Homo sapiens: one gene and its partners. The protein of the gene in region 2 purifies or fractionates together with the protein of the main gene of each other region. This does not show direct contact. Each region holds a gene or a part of one and is shown on either strand. Other genes may lie near its edges.

Region 1 (7,037 bases), on a different chromosome or scaffold from region 2:
AAAAGAAACTGCCAGACCTTTTCCCAACATGGTTATACCATTTTACAGTCTCACCAGCAAAGAATACAAGTATGAGATTCCAGATACTACAGCCCTGTCTTTCCTATCCTAAAGTCAAGAGCATGGTTTGACTAGTGTTCTTCTGGGGCCAGAGGGAATCTGAGGCAGTGGGGAACATGTTTTTATAGGTGGAGGGGCCATAGGAAGTCCCTGACTCTGCCTGAAAATGGGTTTAAACTTAAATCATTGCAGACGATCAGATGAATATTTTATTTTTAGAGATTTTCAGAGAAGGGAATTCCATAGGGGAATGTACCCTTGGTTGTGAAAGAAGATTGATTGAGTGCTTTCTATAAAAAGAAAAATAACCCCAAGCCCCACAGAATTTTACTAAGCTTCTGCCTAGAAACTCCCGGGGGATTTCTGGTCTATTGGTAGGGTTGATATTAACTTGGTGGAGAGTCCCCTTGGATTTCACCGGCTTGGTCAGCCGGCTACTGAAAGGGGTTGTGTTTATTTTGAGGGGCAGGTCAGATTTGGCTTTGTTAAGACTCAGAGAATGACTCTCTTGTGAAAGTGATCTGGCCTCTCAGTGAGAAACATGGCCTGTCAACACCCCTCTTATTGTCCTGACTGGGAAAATGGGCCTGTGCCCCTCGGGTCCCCTAATAACTTAGTCCCTCTCTGTGGTGCCAACAGCCAAAGCTTGCCTTGGCTGATCTAGGAAACGGGAAGTGAACTTTTCTGTCTGAGTGGGACCCCAGGATGCATGTTTTGCATCCCATCAAGGTGTCCCAGGGCTGACCAAGCTTTGCAGGAGTCAGATGGCAGACAGCTCAGTCTTGAGACATTGCACTGTGTTTGGGGACTGTTCCCTCCTCCTTAAAAGCCTAGCGCAGTGCCTGCCAGAGGGTAGGGACACAGTAAACATTGGCTGAGTGATTTCGTGACTCGTGATACCCATCTGGGTGATCGCCTCTCTGGAGGTTGACAGTGGGTGTCAAGATGTCAGGGCCCCAGGATGTATTTTACTCGAGGGCACTTTACCATGGCTTGGAAAACACATTCAAAGGGTTTGGGCCTAGGAAAATTTTGTTCAGTGTAAACTTTCATTGTATTAACACTGTTCTCTTTATTACTGATTTTAATATTGTTAATAAAATACAAATAATTATAGCTGCCACTTGCTGAGTGCTTACCCTTTGCCAGGCACTGTTGTACATTTTGCACGCATTATCTGAATTTAATCCTCATGAGAGGCGAGTACTTATATTATCTTCACTTCAGCCCTGAGGAAATTGAAGCTTGCAAGGTTAACTTTCCCTAAGTTCACGTTTTCATTTTTCTAAGACCTTAAGGGAAGAGACTGTGACATTCTGGTTTTTTGAAGGCAAAATCTGTCTACAATCACGGATTTCCAAATACACAAAGCCATATTATAATAGAAATGTAAATTAGATAATCAGAACAGCGTTACAGGAAATGATACACTGCAATCATTTTCTTTAGTTTTTTTTTGTTGTTGTTTGTTTGTTTTCATTTTGTCTTAAGCTTACTGAGTTTGGCACAGCCAGGGGCTTATACTAATTTTGATGATAATTTAAAATATTATTGGTTGATTAGGATTACAATTTTATTGAAGGAACAGAAAGACGTTGCCAGCTGAACTGTTCAATACAGTAGCCACTAGTTACATGTGGCTATTTACATTTAAATGTAATGAATTAAAAGAAAAGAAAATTTAAAATTCAGTCCTTCCGTCTCACTCACCGCATTTCAAGTGGCCCAGAGCCACGTGTGGTTAGTGGCTACTGAATTGGATAGCACAGATAGTAGTTTCATCATTGCTGAAAGTTCTGTTTGACAGTGCTGCTCTGTGGTGTTTTTTTTTTACCCTTCAGTTTAAGAATTGGTAACACACTTGGCTAGGGCTTCTGCTATTTTTCACTGACAAAGGGATACATTTAGCCAGATGTTGCTTTTGTGTTTACCTTTTAAAGGGGTGTGTGTGTGTGTGTGTGTGTGTGTGCGTGCGTGTGATCTTTCCTTCCATTCACATTCAGTTTTTGACATACGTTTGAATCTCCCTTTTCTCCTGGGCCCCAAAGGGGCTTTCATTATTAGCATTGCATGTTTTATCAAGACACTTTCTCATAAAAAATTGGTACAGCAGGCAAGCGATAGCCACTGCTTGAACCCGGCTAATTCCTTGCTCTCCAAATAAGAATTCAGTTCAGCTTTTAAATATGCAATTGTGTGACTTACTCCCTACCTGGGCTGAATTCAGGAGGAAAAATCACTCTCAGTGGGCCAGAACCAAAGAGCTGGAAAATCAGGTGACATTCTGCAGTGATGGCTCCCTGCCAGGACTGAGATGGAGGAGACACCATTTGGGGTACTTGAAAGCTTCGTTTAGAGTTTTCCTGGATTTGACCTGCCTCCGGGGTGCAGGGATTGATGGAGAAGGCTGGCAGCTTTGATGTCCCAGTTACATGGGACAGTGGAGGGCTGGTACTGTGGCTGTCACCTCTGCTGGGGTGTACAGTACTTCAGAACCAGCCTCACAGGAGAGAGGAAGCCACTCCTCAGGTGTCTGCAAGCAGCAAGTCCAGCCAGAAGTGGGAAATCAACATAAGCTATGCTTGGCTCAGTTGTTTGATGCCGACAAACTCTTATGCTACTTTAAGATCCCGTATTGGAGGTTTCCACACTTCTTCAACCAGGAAGCCAGATGCACCTCACTGACAACTTTCTCTGGCGTTTACACCTGAAATGTCCCGTCGTGTTGTTCCATAGGCAGACCTCCTTGAGGGTTACAATTTATTCTTTACGGGGGCCTATCAGCTTTCATATGTGTGCATGTGTGTGTGTATATATATGTGTGTATGTGTGTGTGTGTGTATGTATGTATGTATGTGCGTTTGTGTGTGTTTGTGTGTATGTGAGTGTATGTGTGTGTTTGTGTGTATGTGAGTGTGCATGTATGTGTGTATGTGTTTGTGTGTATGTGTGTATGTGTATGTATGTGTGTGTATGTGTGTGTTTATGTGCATTGTGTGTGTATGTATGTGCGTGTTTGTGGATGTGTGCATGTGTGTGTGTATGTGTGTGTGTGTGTGTGTGTGTTTTGAAACTCCCTACTTTGCCTTTTACCCTTTGTCCTGAGGAATCCTTCAAGTTTTATGGAATAGCGCTAAAGTTCCTCAGATTTGGGGGAACTGTTGTAATAGATTTTACTCAGAAAGTTGGGTAAGAGATTTGGTTAATCATAGACTCTGGTTAATGGAACCTGATCATATCATGTATTAGCAAATTTTGGAAATATAAAGCACAAGAAATCAGGTTGTTTATTTAAACACTTCTTTAATTTAGAGAGGTCTTTTGGGATTTTCTGGTGTCTTATGATACCTTATAAGTGCCCTTTTCAGTGTGGCATAATCATGACTATAGGCCAGAGTAGGTCAAAAGGTGTCTTCATAATGAGCAACAAGTAATCCCAGTAGAGTACTAAAACGGTTAATATTTATACTGCTCTTTCTATGTGTCTGAGCTCTTCTGAGCCCTGTTAAATAGTAACTCACCCTACCTTATTTAGTCCTCACCCTAGAAGTAGATATTGCAGTTGTCCCCATTTTACAGATGAGAAAACTGAGGTTAAATGGCTTCCTTGAGGTCACACAGGTAGGAAATAAGGGCAGCAGGATTTGAACCTAGTCAGTCTGGTTCCAGAGCCTGTATGACCAACCCCTGTGCTGTACTGTTAAGAAAGTGAATTTGAGAGCCACAGATGGAATATTCCAAATGCCCTTTACCATCCTGTACCAGATAAGTGTCTTTCCTATTCCCGAAAGATGCTGCTAAGTAGGTATTTATTGTGCATCTGTTATGGGCAGGGCATTGGAATAGCTGCTGTTGGGGATGAAGAAGACCCGCTTGCTGCCTTCCAGAAATTTACTGTCATGTAGGGAGATGAGGCATTACCAAGAGCTGTGGAGCTCTCCTCTGAACTCGAAATGGTACATCCAGCGGCCTACTGCATACCTCTGCTTGGGTGGAGTTAACATGGCTAACTCCTGGCTTCTTCTACCCATCTCAGAAGATGGCCACTCCAGCCTTGCAGGTGCTGGTGACCAACCCTAGAGGTGTCTTGGATGCCCTCTTTTGCTCATCCCCTTTTTCCAAATCATCAGTCAATCCTGTTTTCTGCCTTCAAAACATATACAGAATTTGACCACTGCTCACACCTCTACTTACTGTCATCTGGGTTCCCTGCTGTCATGGTCAGTCATGGCCAGAGTAATTGATGTCTTCTTTCAGCTCGAAACCTTCCAGAGGCTTCCAACTCAGTCAGGGTAAAGCTGAAGTGCTCACGGCCCGGCCAGGCCTACGCTCTGTCTCCCCAGCCCTGTTTGACTTCACCCTGAGGTCTGCTCAGCCTCCCAGGGGCCCCACACCCCAGCTTGTTTGCACCTGCCACTGCCTTGCCTAGCCCACCCTCCCCCTTATCCCATGGCTCGCTCTGTGGCCTTCCTCATGATTTTGCTTAAACGTCACCTTCTGGGTGTGGCCTTTCCCAATCCCCGTATTTAAAACACTATACCTCCTCCTGTGATTGCTATCCCTCCCCCCTGCATTGTTGTTTTCTAGTTGGCATACTTTAAAAATGGGATTTTGTGTATTATTTTTATTTGTTTGTCTATTGCCTGTTTCTCGGCTTCTGAAGGTAAGGTCCATGAGGGCAGGCGTGCTCTTTTATTGTGTGAATCTCTTTTGTTTTACTTTGGTATCACTGGCATTTAGAACAGGGCCTTGCACATAGTAAGTGCTCATTACTTATTTATTGGATGAATCAATGGCCTAGAGTGGCAATCCTGTTAGAGCTCAGCCTTGAAGGAGTGTGATGGTTAATTTTATGTCATTTTTTCCTAGGCTACGGTGCCTAGTTTTTGGCCAAACACCAGTCTGGGTATTGCTGTGAGTTATTTTTTAGGCATGATGAACTTTGAAATCAGAAGACTTGGAGTAAAGCAGATCACCCTCCATCATGTGGGTGGACCTCATCCATTCAGTTGAAAGCCTTAAGAAAAAATACTGAGATCCACAAGAAGGAACTCTGACTCCAGACCGCCTTTGGATTCAAGATTGCAACATCAACTATTCTCTGGGTTTCCAGCCTTCTGGCCTGCCCTGAAGATTTTAAACTTGTCAGCCCCCCAATTTCATGAGCTAATTCCTTATAATAAATACCTCTATTTGTCTCTCTCTATCTGGGTACACACACACACACATCTGACTGGTTTTGTTTCTCTGGAGAACCCTGACTAATAGAGAAGATGAGAGGTACGGGAAAGGAATGTCAGGTGGAGGTCCACTGGAGGAAAAGGGTGGTGCCTGGAGAGTTCTGAGGGTGTACAAAAGATTGCAGTAGCTTAGCCTGACTTCACTCTAGGGTCAACTGTGAAAGGAAACAATGGGAGGTAGGACTGGAAAGGAGGGAGGATGGAGGGAGATTGAGGCTGAGGACTCCAAGCTGCACAGCAGATGTGATTATGCTCTTTGAGCCACTTGTGTGGTGTAAAATGGTTAATGTGGGAAAAGCTGGAGATAGGAATTAGATGGATGAGGGGGAGGCAGATTCCAGGAAAGCGTTGGTAGCTGTTGCGATGGCAGATTGGTTTGGAGAATAAAGTGGAGGAATGGATAGCATCCACCAGCTCTGGATGGGCCAATGTCAGGGTGAGGATGGTGGCGGGAGCAGGCTGATACTGGGGTTTTGGGCCTGGATGTTGGGAGGGCAGTGGTACCACCCAGAGACGAGAAATGCAGGAGGAAGAGCAAGCTTGTTGGGCAAGGTGCTGCATTCTGTGGGGCATATTCTTCCAGAAGTGCTGAGAAAGTCTCAGGTGAAGAGAGAAAGTTCCAGGTGGAGATGTTGAAACAGTTCTTGGAGATGTCTGCCTGGAGCTGGAGAGAAGACAGGCAGGCTGGGAAGGGAACTGGGGAGCTCTTGCCTGGAGCAGGTCAAGTTAGGGCAAGAGAGGGAGTGTGAGTGCTAAGGGAGAGACAATAGCATGTAAGTAACTTTTTTGAGCATACATAATACTATGTATTGGTGGTTCCCAAATTCTGTGCTAAGATACCGCAAGGCACTGCAGCAAAGGCACAGGGTGGCCAAGGGATATTTCACATCTTTGAGGGAAATGCAGCAATACTTAACATCTGTCAGATACCACGCTAACTACTAGCTTGAGGCACTTCACAATATCAACATCTGACAGTACCATATTACTCTTGATGATGTCATATCTTTACAAGCTACATTTTGGGTAGTTGCTAAGAAAATCAGTGTGGAACTGAAAATGAGGGTGGTGGTGTTCAGTGTGGTTCCAAGTTTTGAGAAGTTGCTCAGTGTCCAACAGATGCACACATCCCATTAGCAAGTAATTGTGGTTAGTTAAGAATGAAAGAAAAAATATTTCTTCTTTCAGTTTATGTGTGCTATTTTTCTGAAAGGCTGCTGTTGTTAGGCTGTGAATAAGTATTAAGTTGTTTGGACCTAACTACTTAATAAAACGAACTATTGGGTATTTTTTTTTTAGTCTAGGGCATGCCATTAAAAAATGTACAGAGAAACTAAGGGCACTGTGAACGGAGAAATCCTCAGAATCTCTGCCATATGTTGTTCTGGGTGTTATATATAGATTGTAAAAGAGTACACGCAGGGATAGAAAGATAGGGAGACAGGGAATGGCATGAGGACTGTGTCCAAGATGTCTATTTATCCAAAAATAAACTATCTGAAGCAAATAAGGTAAAAATGTAAGCACTTGTGAAATCCAGGTGGTGGATCCATGGACATCTCATTTTCTGTACTTTTCCATATGTTTGAAGTGGTTTATAATTAAAATAATTTTGGAAAAGTGAGGCAAGAGGATGGAGGAGGACAGAAATGTAGGAGGTGCCTGTGCTTGCCTGGGAGGATGGCAGAGGAGACTGGGAAGGGGTGTCTGAGGTAGAAAGAGATTCAAGAGATTGAG
Region 2 (7,037 bases):
GACTAAACACGTCCTATCATTCACATTGTATTCATATCCATGAAATGGGCAAGGCCTTCAGGCTTTTCTCTGTTATCTTTACCTACAGCTTGTGCTCTTTTCTTACACATGCTTATGTTTCTTGTATTCTTTCATCTGATCACTTTCTATTGATCATGACAGTAAAAGTACTTTGTTTCCATAGTGATATTTGACATGTTACAGATCACTGAGAACCCTAAGGGATAAGAAAAAAGTTTGGGTCTGCTTAGGATGCAACATAATAATATTTTATAGCCTTCCAATTGTTTTTAGCTACTGCAGTAACAGCTTTTTAATTGAAATTTAACTTATTTTGTCAGAAGATTGCCTTGTAATACCAGTTGTCAATGAACTTTTAAAAATTAAACCTCAAGCCAGGTATATACCTAAAAGAAAGGAAATCAACACATCAAAAAGATATCTGCTCTCCCATGTTTACTGCAGCACTATTCACAATAACCCAATTTAGATGCAATCTAAGTGTCCATCGACAGATAAATGGATAAAGAAAATGTGGTACATATACACAACAGAGTACTATTCAGCCATAAAAAACAATTTGCAACCACATAGATGGAACCGGAGGACATTATTTTCAGTGAAATAAGCCAGGCACAGGAAGACAAACTTTGCATGTTCTCACTTATTTGTGGGAGATACAAATTAAAACAAAAGAACTCATGAAAATAGAGTAGAATGATGGTTACCAGAGGCTGGGAAGGGTAGTGGGGATGGGGGGAGTGGGAAATGGGGATTTTTAGCGGGTACAAAAGTATAGTCAGATAAAATGAATAAGATCTAGTATTTGATAGCACAACACGGTGACTACAGTCAGCAATAGTTGATTGTACATTTAAAAATAACTAAGGGTATAATTGGAATGTTTGTAACATAAATGATAAATCCTCGATGTGGTGGATACCCCATTTACCCTGATGTGATTATTATTCATTGTATGCTTGTACCAAAATATCTCATGTACCCCATAAATACATACACATAAATATTAAAAATTTTTAAAAATTAAACCTCAAATCAAATGTGAAGTTAATTTGGCTTGGGAGAAAAAGTTTTAAATTCGAAACATATTTACCAAAGCTTTACATAAACCCATGCCAAAATATTGGTACCTTCTATTCCAACTATTCTGTTCATTTTAATATAACTTGTGTAAACCAGAAAGTCTATGAGATAGGTCTCAATCAATTTAGAGGTTTATTTCACCAATGTTAAGGACCATGGCCTGTGACACAGCCTCAGGCAGTCCTGAGAACATGTGCCCAAGGTGGTCGGGCTACAGCTTGATTTTATACATTTTAGAGAAATGGAAGTTACAGGCAAAGACATGTATCAATACATGTAAGGTATACATTGGTTTGGCCCATCTCAAAGCAGCGTGGGGGTGGGCTTCCAGGTCAAAGATGAATTCAAAGATTTTTCACATTTTCAATTAGTTGAAAGAGTTAAGCTCTGCCTGAAGATGTGAAGCCAGCTGGAGTTAAGGTAAGCGGGGGTGTTGTGGCAGCCAAGGTTCTCCTTATGTAGATAAAGCCTCCGGGTAGCTGGCTTCAAAGAATAGATGTGAATGTCTCTTATCAGACCTTAAAAGATGTCAGACTCTCTGGAAAAGACCTAGTAAGGGGCCAGGCACAGTGGCTCACGCCTGTAATCCCAGCACTTTGGGAGGCCGAGGTGGGTGGATTGCCTGAGGTCAGGAGTTCGAGACCAGCCTGACCAATATGGTGAAACTCTGTCTCTATTAAAAATGCAAAAATTAGCTAGGCTTGGTGGCATACACCTGTAGTCCCAGCTACTCGGGAGGATGAGGCAGGAGAATTGCTTGAACCCAGGAGGTGGAGGTTGCAGTGAGCCGAGATCATGCCACTGCACTCCAGCCTGGGTGACAGAGTGACACTCCGACACTCCATCTCAAAAAAAAAAAAAAAAAAGATCTAGTAAGGGAAAGAGATTTTCTATAGAATGTAAGTTTTCCCCAACAAGAGACAGCTTTGCGAGGCCATTTCAAAATAGTCAAATAAATATATTTTGGGGTAACATATTTTTATTTCTTTCAGGTCCCACTATGTGTCACGTGATGTTATTCCAGAGTCAGGTTGGAATTTTCTTATTGCTACAGTATATTTTACCAGTCTTACGATCTCCGTTTTAATGTTAATGCTGGTCAGTTGTGTCTAACCTCCAACGGGAGGAAGGTATAATGAGGCATATCCAACCGCCCACCCCTTCCCATCAGGGCCTGAACTCATTTTTCAGGGTTTTTTTGAGATTACCTTGGCCAAGACAGAGGTCCATTCCTTTCAGGGGTGGGTTGGTGATGGTGGTGCTTAGAATTTTATTTTTGGTTTTTGTATTAGTCTCTTCTCACACTGCTAGAAAGAACCACCTGAGGCTGGGTAACTTATAAAGAAAAGAGGTTTCATTAGCTCACAGTTCCACAGGCTGTACAGGAGGTATGGCTCCAGAGGCCTCAGGAAACTTACAATCATGGTGGAAGAGGAAACAAGCACGTCTTACCGTGGTGCAGGAGAGAGAGAGAAAGAGAGAGAGTGTGAAGGGGGAAGTGCTACACTCTTATAAACAAACATCTTCTGAGAACTCCATCATGGGAATGGCAAGGGGGAAGTCGGCCCCATGATTCAGTGACCTCTCACCAGGCCCCTCCTTCAACACAAGGGGGCTATTATTCCATATGAGATTTGGGTGGGGACACAGAGCCAAACCACATCAGTTTTCACGTGTATCCCAACAAACTTAAACATCAGCAAAGTATGTGCAAACCAGCATCCCTATATCTATTCTTGTCTCAACTGCACCTGCATACATCCTGCATCTTGGACTCTCAAGGCCCTAACGTAATGGCAGAGTATTAACTCTACACTTAAATGACTGTTCCCCTAAAGTAGGGGTAGGAAGAAATCAGATCTAGCTTTCTTTCCCAAATCAGAATGCTTTCCACTTTCATGAAATAAACATACTTCTAGGAGATGTCTCCTTTTATTTATACAAACATACACACCGAACTGGAACGTAATTTGAAGTTGGGAGGTGGAAAACTAAAGGTCAAAAAGGGAAGAAAGCAAAAACGTCCCTTGCACACTTCAGCCCGCAGACCCCAAGGAGGGGCGCGAGGTCCTCAGAACCGGAAAGGCTAGCACTGGATGGGTCCCCGCAGCCCCGCGCCGCTGCGCCGCAGCCTCCGGAAGACAGGGGACGCTGTGGCGCCGGGCGGGGCGCCCTCCGCCGCTCTCTCTAGCAGGCGGGGCGGCGAAGCGGGGCGGGGCGTCTCGGGCGAGGAGAGGAGGTGACCCCGCGAAAGGTAAGCGGCGGCTTCGGTGGTGTTGAGTGGCTGGGCGCCGGCCTGGAGGGGCCAGGGCGGCCGCACCATCACGCTCCCGTCTCTGCCCTTCCCAGCTGCCCTGCCGGTCTCCCTCCCAGGGAGGGAGCGTCCTCTCGGATAGCCCAAATCTTTGCCTCTCCGTGGACTCCCTGTACCCGCACCCCAAGTCGGTGAAGCTCTCTGGCCCCACAGAGCCCATTTCCCGTACTCACCTTGCGGGCTCCAGTTTGTTCGGTGCTTCATCCATGGACACCCCCACCCCGAGAACTCTCTCGTTTCCTGCAGTTTCTTAGTGTCTTGGCTCACCAGACTCATAGGGGAACATGGTGGTGTTTTGAGGAGACGCCGCTTTTCTTTTGTCATAGTGCGGACACTCGTGCTTTTTCAGCCCTGCAACACAATGTGTAGAACTTAACGGAATGAAGTTTTCTTTTGGAGGCTTCCAATGCGTCTGTCTTTGAGTAAGCCTTCGGCACCGAACAGTAGTCCATGACATTGGGGGAAGCCAGATGAGACTCAGATTGTCAGTACTCAGGCTGTCGCCAGCAAAGCCTTTCCCCTTTTTTCAGAGACAGTACTACATCCAAGAGGTGGAAAGATACTTTTGTTTTGTTTTGTTTATTTATTTATTTGTTATTATTATAAGTTTTAGGGTACATGTGCACAATGTGCAGGTTAGTTACATATGTATACATGTGCCATGCTGGTGCGATGCACCCACCAACTGGACATCTAACATTAGGTATATCTCCCAATGCTATCCCTCCCCCCTCCCCCCACCCCACAACAGACCTCAGAGTGTGATGTTCCCCTTCCTGTGTCCATGTGTTCCCATTGTTCAATTCCCACCTATGAGTGAGAATATGTGATGTTTGCTTTTTTGTTCTTGCGATAGTTTACTGAGAATGATGATTTCCAATTTCATCCATGTCCCTACAAAGGACATGAACTCATCATTTTTTATGGCTGCATAGTATTACATGGTGTATATGTGCCACATTTTCTTAATCCAGTCTATCATTGTTGGACATTTGGGTTGGTTCCAGGTCTTTGCTATTGTGAATAATGCCGCAATAAACATACGTGTGCTTGTGTCTTTACAGCAGCATGATTTATAGTCCTTTGGGTATATACCCAGTAATGGGATGGCTGGGTCAAATGGTATTTCTAGTTCTAGATCCCTGAGGAATCGCCACACTGACTTCCACAATGGTTGTACTGGTTTACAGGCCACCAACAGTGTAAAAGTGTTCCTGTTTCTCCACAGCCTCTCCAGCACCTGTTGTTTCCTGACTTTTTAATGATTGCCATTCTAACTGCTGTGAGATGGTATCTCATTGTGGTTTTGATTTGCATTTCTCTGATGGCCAGTGATGGTGAGCATTTTTTCATGTGTGTTTTGGCTGCATAAATGTCTTCTTTTGAGAAGTGTCTGTTCATGTCCTTCGCCCACTTTTTGATGGGGTTCTTTGTTTTTGTCTTGTAAATTTGCTTGAGTTGATTGTAGATTCTGGATATTAGCCCTTTGTCAGATGAATAGGTTGTGAAAATTTTCTCCCATTTTGTAGGTTGCCTGTTCACTCTGATGGTAGTTTCTTTTGCTGTGCAGAAGCTCTTTAATTAGATCCTATTTGTCAATTTTGGCTTTGGTTGCTATTGCTTTTGGTGTTTTAGACATGAAGTCCTTGCCCATGCCTATGTCCTGAATGGTAATGCTTAGGTTTTCTTCTAGGGTTTTTATGGTTTTAGGTCTAACGTTTAAGTCTTTAATCCATCTTGAATTGATTTTTGTATAAGGTGTAAGGAAGGGATCCAGTTTCAGCTTTCTACATATGGCTAGCCAGTTTTCCCAGCACCATTTATTAAATAGGGAATCCTTTCCCCATTGCTTGTTTTTCTCAGGTTTGTCAAAGATCAGATAGTTGTAGATATGTGGCGTTATTTCTGAGGGCTCTGTTCTATTCCATTGATCTATATCTCTGTTTTGGTACCAGTACCATGCTGTTTTGGTTACTGTAGCCTTGTAGTATACTTTGAAGTCAGGTAGTGTGATACCTCCAGCTTTGTTCTTTTGGCTTAGGATTGACTTGGCGATGTGGGCTCTTTTTTGGTTCCATATGAACTTTAAAGTAGCTTTTTCCAATTCTATGAAGAAAGACATTGGTAGCTTGATGGGGATGGCATTGAATCTGTAAATTACCTTGGGCAGTATGGCCATTTTCACAATGTTGATTCTTCCTACGCATGAGCATGGAATGTTCATCCATTTGTTTGTATCCTCTTTTATTTCCTTGAGCAGTGGTTTGTAGTTCTCCTTGAAGAGGTCCTTCACATCCCTTGTAAGTTGGATTCCTAGGTATTTTATTCTCTTTGAAGCAATTGTGAATGGGAGTTCACTCATGATTTGGCTCTCTGTTTGTTGCTGGTGTATAAGAATGCTTGTGATTTTTGTACATTGATTTTGTATCCTGAGACTTTGCTGAAGTTGCTTATCAGCTTAAGGAGATGTTGGGCTGAGACAATGGGGTTTTCTAGGTATACAGTCATGTCATCTGCAAACACGGACAATTTGACTTCCTCTTTTCCTAATTGAATACCCTTTATTTCCTTCTCCTGCCTAATTGCCCTGGCCAGAACTTCCAACACTATGTTGAATAGGAGTGGTGAGAGAGGGCATCCCTGTCTTGTGCCAGTTTTCAAAGGGAATGCTTCCAGTTTTTGCCCATTCAGTATGATATTGGCTGTGGGTTTGTCATAGATAGCTCTTATTATTTTGAGATACGTCCCATCAATACCTAATTTATTGAGAGTTTTTAGCATGAAGGGTTATTGAATTTTGTCAAAGGCCTGTCTGCATCTATTGAGATAATCATGTGGTTTTTGTCTTTGGTTCTGTTTATATGCTGGATTACATTTATTGATTTGCATATATTGAACCAGCCTTGCATCCCAGGGATGAAGCCCACTTGATCATGGTGGATAAGCTTTTTGATGTGCTGCTGGATTCCGTTTGCCAGTATTTTATTGAGGATTTTTGCATCAATGTTCATCAAGGATATTGGTCTAAAATTCTCTTTTTTGGTTGTGTCTCTGCCCGGCTTTCATATCAGGATGATGCTGGCCTCATAAAATGAGTTAGGGAGGATTCCCTCTTTTTCTATTGATTGGAATAGTTTCAGAAGGAATGGTACCAGTTCCTCCTTGTACCTCTGTTAGAATTCGGCTGTGAAGCCATCTGCTCCTGGACTCTTTTTGGTTGGTAAGCTATTGATTATTGCCACAATTTCAGCTCCTGTTATTGGTCTATTAAGAGATTCAACTTCTTCCTAGTTTAGTCTTGGGAGAGTGTATGTGTCGAGGAACTTATCCATTTCTTCTAGATTTTCTAGTTTATTTGCATAGAGCTGTTTGTAGTATTCTCTGATGGTAGTTTGTATTTCTGTGGGATCGGTGGTGATATCCCTTTTATCATTTTTTATTGCGTCTATTTGATTCTTCTCTCTTTTTATCTTTATTAGTCTTGCTAGCGGTCTATCAATTTTGTTGATCCGTTCAAAAAACCAGCTCCTGGATTCATTAATTTTTTGAAGGGTTTTTAATGTCTCTATTTCCTTTAGTTGTGCTCTGATTTTGGTTATTTCTTGCCTTCTGCTAGCTT
Region 3 (7,037 bases), on a different chromosome or scaffold from region 2:
ATTAGAAGCTGGCAAGAGGGAAGGTAAGGTACCAGGCATTAAGCATGGGATGATGATAAAGAGTGCTAAATCAGAAAAGTTGGAAAAAGAGAATTTGTAAGCACAGAATTTACCATTGTATGTTAGTATGACAGTTACATTTTTATTTCAATTTGTCTCAAAATTTATTTTTGTGGCATTCAATAAAGTGATAATAGAAATCTCCATTTCGGCATTTGCCTATTATTCATAAGTTTCCATAGAAACATGGCCAGAACACCAAATATAAAGTATAGACACATTGAAAGTTTGCTTTTAATATCTTTATTTCAGACAATTTTATATCAGTCTCCCTGGAAACAGAAATTCTTACTGAGATGTAAAACATTTGGCTGGGCATGGTGGCTCACGCCTGTAATCCCAGCACTTCGGGAGGCTGAGGTGGGCGGATCACGAGGTCAGGAGTTCGAGAGCAGCCTGGCCAACATGGTGAAACCCCGTCTCTACTAAAAATACAAAAATTAGCTGGGTGTGGTGGCGGGCATCTGTAATCCCAGCTACTCAGGAGGCTAAGGCAGGAGAATCACTTGAACCCAGGAGGCAGAGGTTGCAGTGAGCTGAGATCGTGCCACTGCACTCTAGCCTGGACAGTGGAGCAAGACTCTGTCTCAAAACAAACAAACAAACAAAAAATTTAGCTTTTCTACAATGAAGAATTATTTTTGTTACTTAGACAAAAATCATACATAAATGACGCTCGGCTTTGTTCTTCAAGCTATTTCTTTTTTTTTTTTTTTTTTTTTTGACAGAGCTTCACTCTTGCCTAGGCTGGAGTGCAATGGCACAAACTTGGTTCAGTGCAACCTCTTCCTCCCGTGTTCAAGTGATTCTCCTGCCTCAGCCTCCCAAGTAGTTGGGATTACAGGCATATGCCACCATGCCCAGCTAATTTTTGTATTTTTAGTAGAGACAGGGTTTCAGTATGTTGGCCAGGCTGGTCTCGAACTCCTGACCTCAAGCGATCCAGCTGCCTTGGCCTCCCAAAGTGCTGGGATCATAGGTGTGAGCCACCGCGCCTGGCCTTTTTTTTTTTTTTGAGATGGAGTTTCGCTCTTGTTGCTCAGGCTGGAGTGGAATGGCGCGATCTCGGCTCACTGTAACCTCTGCGCCCAGAGTTCAAGCAGTTCTCCTGCTTCAGCCTCCTGAGTAGCTGGGATTACAGGTGTGTGCCACCACGCCCAGCTAATTTTTTGTGTTTTTAGTAGAGATGGTTTCACCATGTTGGCCAGGCTGGTCTGGAACTCCTGACCTCAGGTGATCCACCTGTCTCAACCTCCCAAAGTGCTGGGATTACAGGTGTGAGCCACCACGCCTGGTCTCGTCAAGCTAAGAGATGCTCCTAAGAACCTAGTAAACATTTCAGATAGACTCAAAGTATTTTCTACTACCTTGCCTTTATTTAACGGTATGTCTAACATAACTGACGGTAGTATCAGTAACACAAAATAAGATACTAAGATCTTATTGTCCGATTTTATTAGTACTCTTGACTTTTCATGGAGCATTTTATGTTCTGACGTTAGGAGCTTTGCTAATTTGCTGGCTAAAGGCGCTCTCTGAAGTGACTCTTTCTATTCTTTTCCACTGATGGGTGAAGGTAGGGAAAGAATTGGCAATGTAATGTGGAAAAACCTCTGAGCAACAGATCTTTCCTCTTTCCAGTAGCTATTTTAAGCCCTCTCTTTTTTTTTTTTTTTTGCTTTTTTGAATAATATGTTTGATGTAAAAGACATAGAGAATACAGAAAAGTCATTGATTATGGTATGCATATGAATATAACATTTTATTTTAGAAAAATGAGATCATTCTATATGAGCTGCTTCATAACTTACAGCAGTGAAATAATGTCATAAATTCCTGAATCACTGCTTGACATCCAGAGAGTGCTCCAAGATATCTTTCCATGCCAGGACACCCTGCTCTATCGCATGCCTTCTAGTAACTGCTTAATGTACCATCAGATGGTTGGAGTATCATTTATTTACCTATCCTTTATGATTGGGCATCTTTTCTAGTAACATCATACACAGTCTCATTACATTTGATTTCAAGGGTACCGATAAAAACATATTTTGATGACTGATGCCTTGTACCTCCCTGTAGAATTCAGTTAAATCTATGGGTTGAGTCATTTTGTAGTTAAGATATTTTAGTATTAAATGTTCTTATGGGCCAGGTGTGGTGGCTCACGCCTGTAATCCCAGCACTTTGGGAGGCCGAGGCGGGTGGATCACGAGGTCAGGAGATCGAGACCATCCTGGCTAACACGGTGAAACCCCGTCTCTACGAAAAATACAAAAAATTAGCCGGGCGTGGTGGCGGGCGCCTGTAGTCCCAGCTACTCGGGAGGCTGAGGCAGGAGAATGGTGTGAACCCAGGAGGCAGAGATTGCAGTGAGCCGAGATCACGCCACTGCACTCCAGCCTGGGTGACGGAGCGAGACTCCATCTCAAAAAAAAAAAAAAAAAAAGTTCTTATGTCAAATTGGAGTTAGCATTGACTTTTCCCTGGACTTTAGAATTCATCATTTAATATTTTTTGTTTCTTGGTAGCCTATCTTGCATCTTTAATTCTGAATAGCTACCACTTTAAAAGATTTGATGCTTACCACTTTAAAAGATTTGATTAGATGACAAATCAAGAGAGAATGTTAGAAGAAATATTAAAAGATGTGGGAAAACTGGGAGAAACTTGACTAGTTTTGGGTGTGCTGAAACAGATGTTTATTGAGTACCTTTAGGTGGCCAGGCTGTGTTCCAGATTTAGGGCAGACAGTGGTATACAAGACAGAACCTCATCCTAACTCTGATCCTTACATTCTGGAGGGAGCTAGGGATAGATAATACATGAATAATCAAGAATGTTAGGTGGTGAGGTGCTAGGGAGAAAAGTAAAATAGGGTCATGGATTGGGGAGGAGGACAGTTACATGGGGGTTGTGGGGATGAAAGATGGCTGCTCTCCTTACGTGACCTGTGAGCAGTCCTAAAGTGAGAAGGGAGCCTTGTGAGGATGGTTGGTGAGAGCCAGGGGTCCACACAGACAGTTACTTTGGAGTTCCTTGAATGGGAGCAAACTTGTTTTTGGCCAAGGACAGAAAGACACAGGGTGGCTGCGGAAGAGTGAAAAGGATGCCAGGACTATGGTGGGTTAAGGCCATGTGTGTATAGTGGGCCTTGGCAAAGAATATAGACTTTAGTTGTGATAGGAAACCATTGGAGGATTATAGCCTGGGAAATATTTTTAATTCTTTTTTTTTTTTTTTGAGATGGAATCTTCACTGTGTCGCCCAGGTTGAAGTACAGTGGCTCAATCTTGGCTCACTGCAACCTCCGCCTCCTGGGTTCAAGCGATTCTCCTGCCTCAGCCTCCCGAGTAGCTGGGGCTACAAGCACGTGCCACCACACCCGGCTCATTTTTTGTATTTTTAATAGAGATGGGGTTTCTCCGTGTTAGCCAGGATGGTCTCGATCTCCCAACCTCGTGATCCACCCACCCTGGCCTCCCAAGGTGCTGGGATTACAGGTGTGAGCCACCATGCCCGGCCAATATTTTTAATTGTTTAAGAAAAAGATCAGACGGTGGCTCATGCCTATAATCCCAGCAGTTTGGGAAGCAGAGGCAGGAGGATTGCTTGAGCCCAGGAGTGGGCTGGGACTAGCCTGGACAACGTGCTGAGACCCTGCCTCTACAAAAAGTAAATTAGCCAGGTGTGGTGGCACACACCCATAGTCCCAGCTACTCAAGAAGCTGAGGCAGGAGAATCTCCTGAGCCCAGGAAGTCAAGGCTGCATTGAGCTGTGATTGCTCCACTGCCCTCCAGCCTGGGTGACAGTGAGACTGTCTCAAAAAAAAAAAAAGATCAGACTAGCTGTAAAAGTAGGTAGCAAAGTGATGAATAGACAAGTCACAGAAAAATAAATGCAGATGATCCTTAAACACAGCTTCACACTTAAGAGAAATACAAACGAAAACTGTGCTGTGATTTCTCTTCTGTTGGGAGAAGATCCAAAAACTTGACAATACATTCTTTGGTGTGGCTGCGAAGAGTTGCATTCGTGTATTGCTGGTTAAAATGTAAGGTGGTTTGACTCCCTGAAGAGGAATTTGGCATAATCTCAAACATTGCAAATGCATTTAATCCAGAAATCCTACTTCAAGGAATTTATCCTGAAGGCATACCCCATAAATATGAAATAACATGTGCATAAGGTTTTGTTGCATTATTTTCAATAGCTAAATATTGGAAATAATATGTCTAGTAAGAAATTGGTAAAATAAACTGTTATATCCACACAGAGGAGAATTATGGAGCTGTTAAAAAAAAAAAAAACTCTCTTTACTGCTATGGAGTGATACCCAGATATCCAGGATATGTTACATGAAAAAAAACAAGGAGGAGAATGTACAGTAATGTATGAAATAATATGTATTTGCTTATTTAAAACAACAACACTGAAAGGAATTCTTGGTGGTGGTGTGTGACTGTTTTTCCCTTAATTTCAGAGGTAGCCAAAGTGCATATTTGCTGAAGATGTTATTTTGGTATGGGCTTTCCAATAAATGCTAACTGTTCACTTTTGCTTTTAATTTGTGAAAACTTTGTTTTATAATTTATTGTGCATTATGTGGTATATAGCAATTGCTTTTTTTTTTTTTTTTGAGATGGAGTCTAGTTCTGTTGCCCAGGCTGGAGTACAGTGGCACGAGCTCAGCTCACTGCAACCTCCACCTCCTGGGTTCCAGCAGTTCTAATGCCTCAGCCTCCTGAGTAGCTGGGACTACAGGCATGTGCCACCACGCCCAGCTAATTTTTATATTTTTAGTAGAGAAGGGGTTTCGCCATCTTGGCCAGGCTGGTCTTGAATTCCTGACCTCAGGTGATCTGCCCACCTCAGCCTCCCAAAATGCTGGGATTACAGGTGTGAGCTACTGCGCCCGGCTTATAGCAATTGCTCTTGCATTTCATTTTATTCTCACTATATTTTGAGTTAGGTAGTATAAGAATTATACTTGTTTTACATATGAGAAGACAGGCTTTGAGAGGTGTAAATTGAGTTTGCCAAGGTTTTTTAATTTGTTTTTTGTTTTTGAGATGGTCTTTCTCTGTTGCCGAGGCTGGAGTGCAGTGGTGTGATCATAGCTCACTGCAGCCTCCACTTCCTGGGCTCAAGTGATCCTCTTGCCTCAGCCTCCCAAGTAGCTGGGACTAAGAGTTTTCCAAGGTTTAAAAAGATAAGACTTGGTATGGTCAGGTGTGGTGGTGGCTCATGCCTGTACTACAGCACTTTGGGAGGCTGAGGTGGGTGGATCACGAGGTCAGGAGATGGAGACCATCCTGGCCAACATGGTGAAACCCCATCTCTAATAAAAATACAAAAATTAGTTGGGTGTGGTGGCACATGCCTGTAGTCCCAGCTGCCTGGGAGGCTGAAGCAGAAAAATCGCTTCAACTCAGGAGGCAGAGGTTGCAGTGAGCCGAGATCATGCCACTGCACTCCAGCCTGGGTGGTAGAGTGAGACTCCGTCTCAAAAAAAAAAAAAAAAAAAAAAGGCTTGGTAGATCAAGAATGTAAATTTCAGATATATGGCATATAGGATTAGAATTTATAGAATGACTCATGGGCTTCTTTGGATACTGCCTTTTTTCCACCTTTTTTTCAGTTAATTAAGCTTTAGAGTTAAAATAATAACATTGGATAATGAAAAATGAAATGGAGGTACTTGTAACCCAGACTTTTTTTTTTTTTTTCTTTTCTCTGTATGAGACAGGGTCACAACTCTGCCTGTCGCCCAGGCTGGAGCACAGTAGTGCCATTAGAGCTCACTGTAACCTCAAATCCCTGGGCTCAAGTTATCCTGCCACTTCAGCCTCCCAAATAGCTGGAACTACAGGCATGTGCCTCCACACCCAACTAATCTTTTAAAAAATTTTTGTAGAGATGGGGGTCTCACTATGTTATGTTGCCCAGGCTGGTCTTGAACTGTTCTCAAGTGATCCTTCTGCCTCAGCCTCCCAGAGTGCTGGGATTACAGGTGTGAGTCACTGCACTCCACCCAGAAATACTCTTAAAAGTCTAAAAAAGGAGTTAAGTGCTATTAAGAAATACACAAAGGGAGAAAGGTATACTATAGCATATGAAATGTCACAGCTCAGTCACGATCACTAAAACATAGATTGAGGCGTGAAGGTAAGTTAAAGCAAGACTGAACACTGACATAGAAGGAGGTAGAGCAGTGTTTCGGAAACCAGATTTAGGATTGTCAGAAGCTAGGAAAGCAAAAGCAAGGCATGAGTGAGCATGAGACTGGAGCTTGGCTGGTACTGTGTGACCTCAGATGAGGCAGGGCAGCTCAAGACCCATCAGGTAAGACTTACCTGATGGGTGGAACGTGTGAACTTAGATAAAATCTCAGCGTTTACATCATAGTTGAGAGGTTTGAAATGTTTGTGTTATGGACCGTAAGACTAATACAGTGTGCAGTATGGTAGAGCAGGTCAGTAAATGCAGTAAGCCTTTAAATAAACAGATGCCCAGCAGTTGGCCCAGAAACTGCCAATGTCTCCTGTTTAATTGGGATATATTGAAATCAATATGTTGAACTCAATCTCTTTCTCTGAAATATGCTGCTTCTGTCAGTTACTTTCTTGGTTGCTGCCCTCTCCCTTTAATATTTTGACAAGAAAAATAATTTCTTTACAGTTTACAATTGCATAATTTTAACACTTTTAGCCTTTAGTAATAATGCATTTCATTTATTCTAAGTTCCATATTTTTACATTTTTAATTAACATCTGTGAAATTGAGATGGCTGATAGATTCAAGGAGAAGCAGTGTTCAATGTCAGTGGATCTTACAGATTTCTTCCCCTGAGGGGGGTGTTTATATTAAGACCTGAGTTTAATTTTTTTTTGTCTTACTTGCCCCCCATCATACTATCATGCTTTCGAATTAAGTTGCAATTTAAATTGATAATACAAAACTGGTGGGTCTTAAA
Region 4 (7,000 bases), on a different chromosome or scaffold from region 2:
CTATCCTGAAGCCATAGTCCGAGCAGATGGGAGGAAGGACTACGGTTAGTGAACACAGTGTCCCCATCCTACAGACAACCCCAGGCTATGCCCCGGCTGGGCCTCCCAGTGTCCTTCTGCTAAAGGAAGGGGAGATGAGATGACCGGGGAGATGAGATGAACAGGGAGGCCCTTCCCTGTAACCCTGTGCTGTCCTGGCTCTGGACACCCTCAGCCACCTGTCCTGTCTTTTGGCCCACAGCCACCACGGCTGACCAGACAAAGGGTGATAGTGTCGCCTGAGGAACACTGACTCAGGAGGAAATCAAGCCAGATATTTCTCTGGGCCAGGAGTAAATAAATAAATCAATATGCAAAGGTTCCACCTATGGAGGAGAGGGTGGCCATGACAGCAGAGAAGAAGTGGGGCCTTCATTAAGAGCCAAATCAAAGAGGTTGCTGCCTTGGAGAGAGCCGTAGCCCCAGGCTCCTGGCTCCCCAGTTTCCCCAGGGAAGGAAACTGCTGACTCCATCAAACCCTCACTTGAGTGGGGAATCTGATTTCACCTTCTGGGTCTTTGAGGCCCTGCAACCTCCTGCCCTCTGCCTCCATGTGTGGCATCCCACAATCCCATCCCCTACCTTGGGGACCTAGGGGCATGAGTGGTGTCCACTACATGCCCAGCACGCCTTCCCTGCGTCCCTTTCCTTGAGAACTGAGGCTGGCACCACAGGTTGTGGCTGGACCCAGCCAGCCTCAGGGGAACCCTTAATTGCCCTGACTGTCCAGAATTCTACCACTCACTCCCGCTAGCCAGCCCCAGCCTCTCATCTGTTTTGCAGCAGTATGACTTCTCTGGTCTTGCTGTCTCCAGCCCCCTGTGCCCTGTGCTCCACCAGCAGCCAGGGGCATCCTTGTAAAAATGAGGCAGAGTATGTCTCACTTGTGCTTGAAACCTTCTCATGTTTGCTCCCGACGCTTGCTTGACATGGGCAGACCCCGAGTCAAAGTCCAGCCAGGGCACCAGGGCTGTGCAATGCCTGGCCTCTCTGACTCCCACGCCCATGCTCCCCCTCCCCCACTCCTGCCATGCTGCCTCTAGCTGCCTCTCTAGCACCATCCCTCACTCTTAACTCAGGGCCTGTGCACTGGCTGTTCCTTCCTCCTGGAAAACTCTTTGTCCAGAAAGCCAAGTGGACTTCGCTTCCGCGCCCTCTCCCCATCCAATGGCTCAGATGTCCCTTCCTTAGGAGGCCTCCCTGCCCATCCTATTTACGATGGAAAATGACCCCCATATTCGCACACAGCCACACCACGTGTGCTGCCTTGCCCCAAGCATGGTCCCTTTCTAGCACACTGTATAATTTACTTAGAGTGTTTATCGCCCACCTCTTTCCCACTGTGCCATAGGGCAGGGACTGTTGGTCTGTTTGTTCATTGATGTATCCCATGTGCCCACATGGACCTAGCACCAAGCAGGTGCCAATAAATCAATCCCAGGCCCTCGTAGTGACTGAGTGAGGAATCGGTCAACGTGGCTCACGGAGGGGATAGTTGGGGACTTCTGGGAGGTCTTCTGGAAAGGCCCGTGGCCTTCCCTGGGTGGACACGGGTAGACGCACAGCCCCCGCCCACCTGGACTTGGCCGATCCTGATGCTGCCCCACGACTAAGCCCTCAGGCCCGGGAGCCAGGATGTCCCCTCATCTTGTAAGCCCTTTGGGGCTGGGCTTCTGTTGCTACCCCTGCAAGTGTGCTCCCACCCCACATACATTGCATGGCCCCTCAGCCCCCTTAGAAGCCCTGGCCCTCACCCTTGGCCTTCTTCCTGTGCCAGTGATGGGGATAATCCCCCAAACCCTGGCCCACCCAGAGCCTGGGGCTGCAGCCCATTCCCTGTGGTCCCTGGGGACCGCAGTGGCCACACCCTCCACACCTCCTCTATCCATTCCACACCATCCTGGGAGGAGGGAGAGCCCCAGAACAGCCAGCGTGGCAAGACAAACACACTGGAGACTGAGGCCAAGCACTCCAGGAGCCACGACAGAGATGGGGGTGTCAGTGTGGCCAGGAGACTCCTTGGAGGAGGTGGGCAGTGTTGGGGGGACAAGGGCAGCCCCACCAGTGCCTCTGTGTCCCAGCCACGGGGTGGGGCAAGGCTGGGCATGGCTGTGCTTGCGTGCGTGGTGTTATCATAGAGGAAATCAATGCCTGGCACTGGCCCAGTGTTTAAGGGAAATGAATAGATTTTGGCCGAGGACAAAGAGAGTTTGATTAATCCGAAATTGGATAATGGAGGCAACACTCTAATTATTTTTCTTCCCAGCATTTCATCGAGAAATATGTTTGCACAGCATATCAGAGGTAACTGAGCGGGTGAGGGGGTGACCATGCTGGAGGAAAGCCCAGCTCGGAGACAGGCCACCCGCACCCGCCCTCACCAGCAGGGGTCCTGGTAGCCACTCTACAGGGCCACAGGAAGCAAGAGGGCTGGGTGGGGCTGGCCTGAGGCCACATGCAGCTGGGGCAGCTAAGGCCAGAGGGACATGCCATGCAGAGCTGGGCAGGAGGAGGCATGAGGGCCAAGCCCTCATGGTGGAGTTGCTCCTCCCCTGGCCTGGCCACAGTTAGGGGTAGGGCCACTAGTGTGGGGGTGCAAGAGGAGTAGGGGTGAGGTACCACCAGTTCACAGGGGGTCAGGGCCTGCTGGGGTCAGGGTGAAGGCTGTAGGTGCCAAGTTCTCCCACCCATAGTCAGAAGGGTCTTCAGAAGGCCCCTCTTGGCAGCTTGGAAGGTTTTCCCAGCTTTGCCTCTGGGGAAGCCTGATTAGCTGCTCCATAGCCAAGGTCAGACAGGACCACCGGGCCCCACAAACACAGAGCCTGGTACTTTACATGCCTCAGCCCTCCTTAGTCACCTTGCCCCCTCCTCCCTTGCTGACCCCACTCCTGCAACACCTGGAGCTGAAACCACACGGTTTAGCACCTTGTTTCCGTGGCCATCCAGCCTCCCAATTCCAAGAAGGCTTCTAGGGGCTCCTTGCTGGAACAGAGATCAACATCAGGTGTACATCCAAGAGGAGGCTCCCGGCCTTGTAGAGTGGTTGAGTCTCTACCACTCATTCACTTATTCATTCTTCAGTGTACAGAAAGAGGCTGCCATGAACGAAGCATGGGGTTGGACCCTGAGGTCACTACAGGGAGTGAGGCATCAAATGAGAGAAGAGACAGTCAGCAAGCAATGACCTGAGCTGCTCATGGGACTCAGGAAGACGGAGGCCAGTCCTTCCCAATAAGGGGTTAGCATCAGTGTCACTAAGGAAGGGGCATGTAAGGAGAGATAGGGTGGGTTAAAGCTGCTAGATAGGAGGGGGTACAGTGGTGAGGTTCACCAGTCACTGGCAAGCTCATCTAAATCCTGCCTCCCGTGCCCGCTGCAGACATCACTAATCGACCATGACTCTTTCCCTCTGGGCTGCAGCACAGCCTTAGAATCCTCTTCAGCACAGCATGCTTTGGACGGTCACTCCAGAGTTGAGATAAGGAAGGAAACTATCTGTACACTTGACCCAGCCCAGAGCTTCCAACTCAAAGGCAAGGAAGGCCCAGAGAGTGGAAAGCATTCGCAGGGTCACCATCACAGGCAGAGCTGGACTTCTACCCAGGCCTGGTGCCTTCCCCTGCCCTGAGCTCCTCTACTGGCCTGAGAGGCCACTCCTTGATCTTGGGGCACAGGGGCCACCTGGAAAGGCCACTCTACCATCATCATGTTCCTTTACTACCTTCAGGGTCTTGGCTCATCCCCTTAGGACAGTTTTCCATAGACATGCCTCTGAAGGTCATCACTCTGTGAATCCCCGTGTCTGACAAAGGCCCCACTGAGTCACATTGCATCACTGAGTGGCCCGGCGTCAGCCCGAGGCATCTGTCCACCTGCCTCTGGCTTGAGAGTAACCCACAGTTGGGCCTGACGGGGCCCAGCTGGTAGCATCCACCTGAGGGTGGTTTGTGTTTGGTGGCCAAACCTGAGGCCCAGAGACACATCTCTGGGGACCCAAAGGTACAACCTCTTAGGAGCAGAGGGTTGAGCTGGAGCAGGGGTTCTGCAGCGCACGAGCACACAGCTCAGCCCTAGGGCAAAAGGGGCTGGACAGGGCCACTGAGGCATGACTGTCTGCGAATATTCAGTCCCTCCACAGCGACTCCCTGGGTGGCGATTCTCAATGGTGACTCCGCAACGTCCCTGCCCTCATGGAGCTTACACAAACACATACGATGAATGAATCAAATAGGGAGCAGGTCACGCTGTGGCGAGTGCTAAGGGGAAAAAAATAGCAGCAGGAAAGGGCATAGGAAACATGGTCAGGAACATGGCGCTGTTCTACATAGAGGCCCCACCAGCCCTGTCTGGAGCAGGGCCACAGCCTAAGAGCCAGCCCTCACTGCCATGCCAGCCTCCAGCACAGCCTCCTCCTCAGCCACCCTTCCTATGACCAACCAGGGTGAGAGGGACCATGCTGCCCAGATGCGGGGCTGCCCAGACCTACTAAGGCACTGGGCACATGAGGTCCACTCTCCACACCTCAGAGGACCTTGGCCTCCATGACTCACAGGGGCAGACCTCACAAAGGAGCAGACCTCACAGGGGCAGACCTCACAAAGGACCTTGGCCTCCGTGACTCACAGGGGCAGACCTCACAAAGGGACCTCTGTCCTGGCAGCTCTCCATCCCAGGGGCCAAGGGTCTCCTGAAAGGTTTGCTCTAACCACAACCACGGTCCCCCATGGCCATGAGAGGCCTGGCTGAGCCCTCGGGGACGGGGTGTGTTTCTGGTTGGAGGCTGCTAGAAGGAACACCCCCGGGCTTGACACTATGTGTAAGGCCCCTCCCTGCACTGTGGCTTTTAACAGTCTCGCTTCTTAGCACTTTTTGATGGATTCTCCAGGGACGTCTCTAAAAGAGAGTTATACCTTAATTTAGAAGCAAATAACTCAAAACTCTGTGATGTGGCAGCTTCCTTTGGAAAAGAGATGAACGCAAAGAAGCCATTGCTGTGTGAAGCTGTGGCCATGTAGGTCCAGGGCCTGCTGATGGGACCATCTAAACCTCAACCTCAAGATGTGCCTCCTGCTGCCTCTTGCCCAAGGGTCCACAGACCAAGGGGCAAGAAGCAAGACATTTAGTGAAGAATTGCAGCAGGCAATTGCCTGCTGCAGTTTTCACTTTGGGTTCCCTGGGCCATGGTGCCAAGGTGAAGCTCACAGGCTGGGTGTGACTGACTCCAGCGGCCCTGAAAGTCCAACGCAACCCACCCGCCCACTCAGGGAAGGGAGGAGAAATGCTGTGGGGACTGGGCAGCAGGCAGGTTGCGGGCCCACCCTCCAGGCCTTCCTTCTCCACAGGGGCCACTACATCCCCAATATTATCCTTGAGGTCCCTGTGACCAGCCAGCTTCCTGGGCACTCACTTGGGCATCCATACAGTTTTAATGCTCTGCTGTTGCTGTTCTGGAATGCATAATTTTAGTTTTACTTTTGTAGAGACAGGCTCTTACATGTTGCTCAGGCTGGTCTCAAACTCCTGACTTCAAGTGATCCTCCTACCTCAGTCTCCCATAGTATAGGATTACAGGTGTGCGCCATCATGTCAGGCCCTTAATAATTTTCAAATGGGGGCCCCCAAAATCATGTGGCCAGCTGTGCCTGCATTGCTCAGTCCCTGGGCATGCCCTGCCTGCTTGACACAGGGGACCTGCTCTCTGGGACCCGCTCTTCTCCAGCCTCCCGAGGCGCCACTGTGACTGTGCTTCCACCTCACTTGCCCGTCAATCCTCAATCTCTCTTTCTCGATGCTTCTCAACTCATCCTCCCCACAGTGGAGGCCCAGGAGCCCAGCTCAGCCTCTTCTGATCCTACCTACCCTTGATCCCTAAGTGACCTCACGTGGTCCCCGGCCTGCCACACACCTCAGTGCCAGGGGCTCCAGGTTGCCACCTCCAGCCTTGCTCTCCCTCTGGCCACATGTGCCCATCAATGGCTCTCCAGGTCTCAGACCCACCTCCTAATTCCCCACCTCTCCAGAATGGGTTTTTCTGTATCTTGCTTCTCAGCCAATACCAGCTCCATCTTTCTACTGGTTCAGACCAAAACTGCAGCTGTCCTTTAAAAGCTGCAGCTTTAAAAAAACAAATCTCCCACCTGCATTTCTCAGGGCCTCCAGAGCTCCCACCCCTGGGTCAGCAGCCTCTCTGCCTGGGATGTTGCAGTAGCCCCTCATGGCCCCCAGCCTTACCCCACCCTAGCCTATTTTCCCACCTCAGCAGAGAGATCTTTTCAAAGTGTAGATTAGCTCCTCCTGGGAGGGCAGCTCCAGTCTCTTCTCTGCTCCAACCCTGCCAAGGTCTTCCTGCCTCATTGGGGCCCACTGAGTCCTGCAGGACCTGGCCCTGACACCCCACCCACACTCCTGCACCAGGTTCCAGCCACTCTGGTGGGGCCTCCAGGGGCCAGGGAGTGTCTGCTCAGCGCCTTTGCACCTGCTGTCTCTCCCCTGCTCAGCCACACCACTCACCCAGCACTTCTGCATGGCACTGTGTCAGTCCCCCACCCCCATCTCGTGTCCCCCACCTTCTGCTTTAGTGTTCTCCACAGTGCAGCACTTAGTAACATGTGTTACTGTCAACCCCTGCCCGTCTGGTGTGAGCACTGTGAGTGGATGCTACGTCCCTGCTGTACCCCTGCACCTGGCACAGTGCCTGGCATGCAGCAGGCGCTGGTAAATGTTAGCTGAACAAATGAATGGATGAATCGCGTGAGGTTCTGCTCCTCCGGCTCAGTCCAGAGGGCTGATGTCTCCTCCTATGTGCTCTAGGATCTGTCAAGCGGTCCCTGTTGGTTCAATCCTGTGAAGCGCCTCCCCTGGCGGTGTTCGCACGAAAGGGCCAAAATGTGTGGCAGGGGCTGGTGTGGGGACAGGGCAGGGCACTCTTGGCTTTGGGTATGGATGAGGATAATGAGGTTCA

Evidence for each region.
Region 1: the proteins of GJB7 (region 2) and RFTN1 purify together in Homo sapiens (affinity purification with mass spectrometry; 2 studies listed by BioGRID and IntAct, with this or other methods). This does not show direct contact.
Region 3: the proteins of GJB7 (region 2) and CCNYL1 purify together in Homo sapiens (affinity purification with mass spectrometry; 2 studies listed by BioGRID and IntAct, with this or other methods). This does not show direct contact.
Region 4: the proteins of GJB7 (region 2) and GNAZ purify together in Homo sapiens (affinity purification with mass spectrometry; 2 studies listed by BioGRID and IntAct, with this or other methods). This does not show direct contact.

Annotation. Positions count from the first base shown.
Region 1 is NC_000003.12:16,503,689-16,510,725, reverse strand, and holds part of RFTN1 (raftlin), read left to right. Parts: intron 1-7,037. UniProt on the Homo sapiens protein: Involved in protein trafficking via association with clathrin and AP2 complex.
Region 2 is NC_000006.12:87,319,275-87,326,311, forward strand, and holds part of GJB7 (gap junction beta-7 protein), read right to left. Parts: intron 3,770-7,037; 5' UTR 3,592-3,769; intron 3,359-3,591; exon of another isoform or gene 3,314-3,358; intron 1-3,313.
Region 3 is NC_000002.12:207,714,619-207,721,655, forward strand, and holds part of CCNYL1 (cyclin-Y-like protein 1), read left to right. Parts: intron 1-7,037. UniProt on the Homo sapiens protein: Key regulator of Wnt signaling implicated in various biological processes including male fertility, embryonic neurogenesis and cortex development. Activates the cyclin-dependent kinase CDK16, and promotes sperm maturation.
Region 4 is NC_000022.11:23,073,519-23,080,518, reverse strand, and holds part of GNAZ (guanine nucleotide-binding protein G(z) subunit alpha), read right to left. Parts: intron 1-7,000. UniProt on the Homo sapiens protein: Guanine nucleotide-binding proteins (G proteins) are involved as modulators or transducers in various transmembrane signaling systems.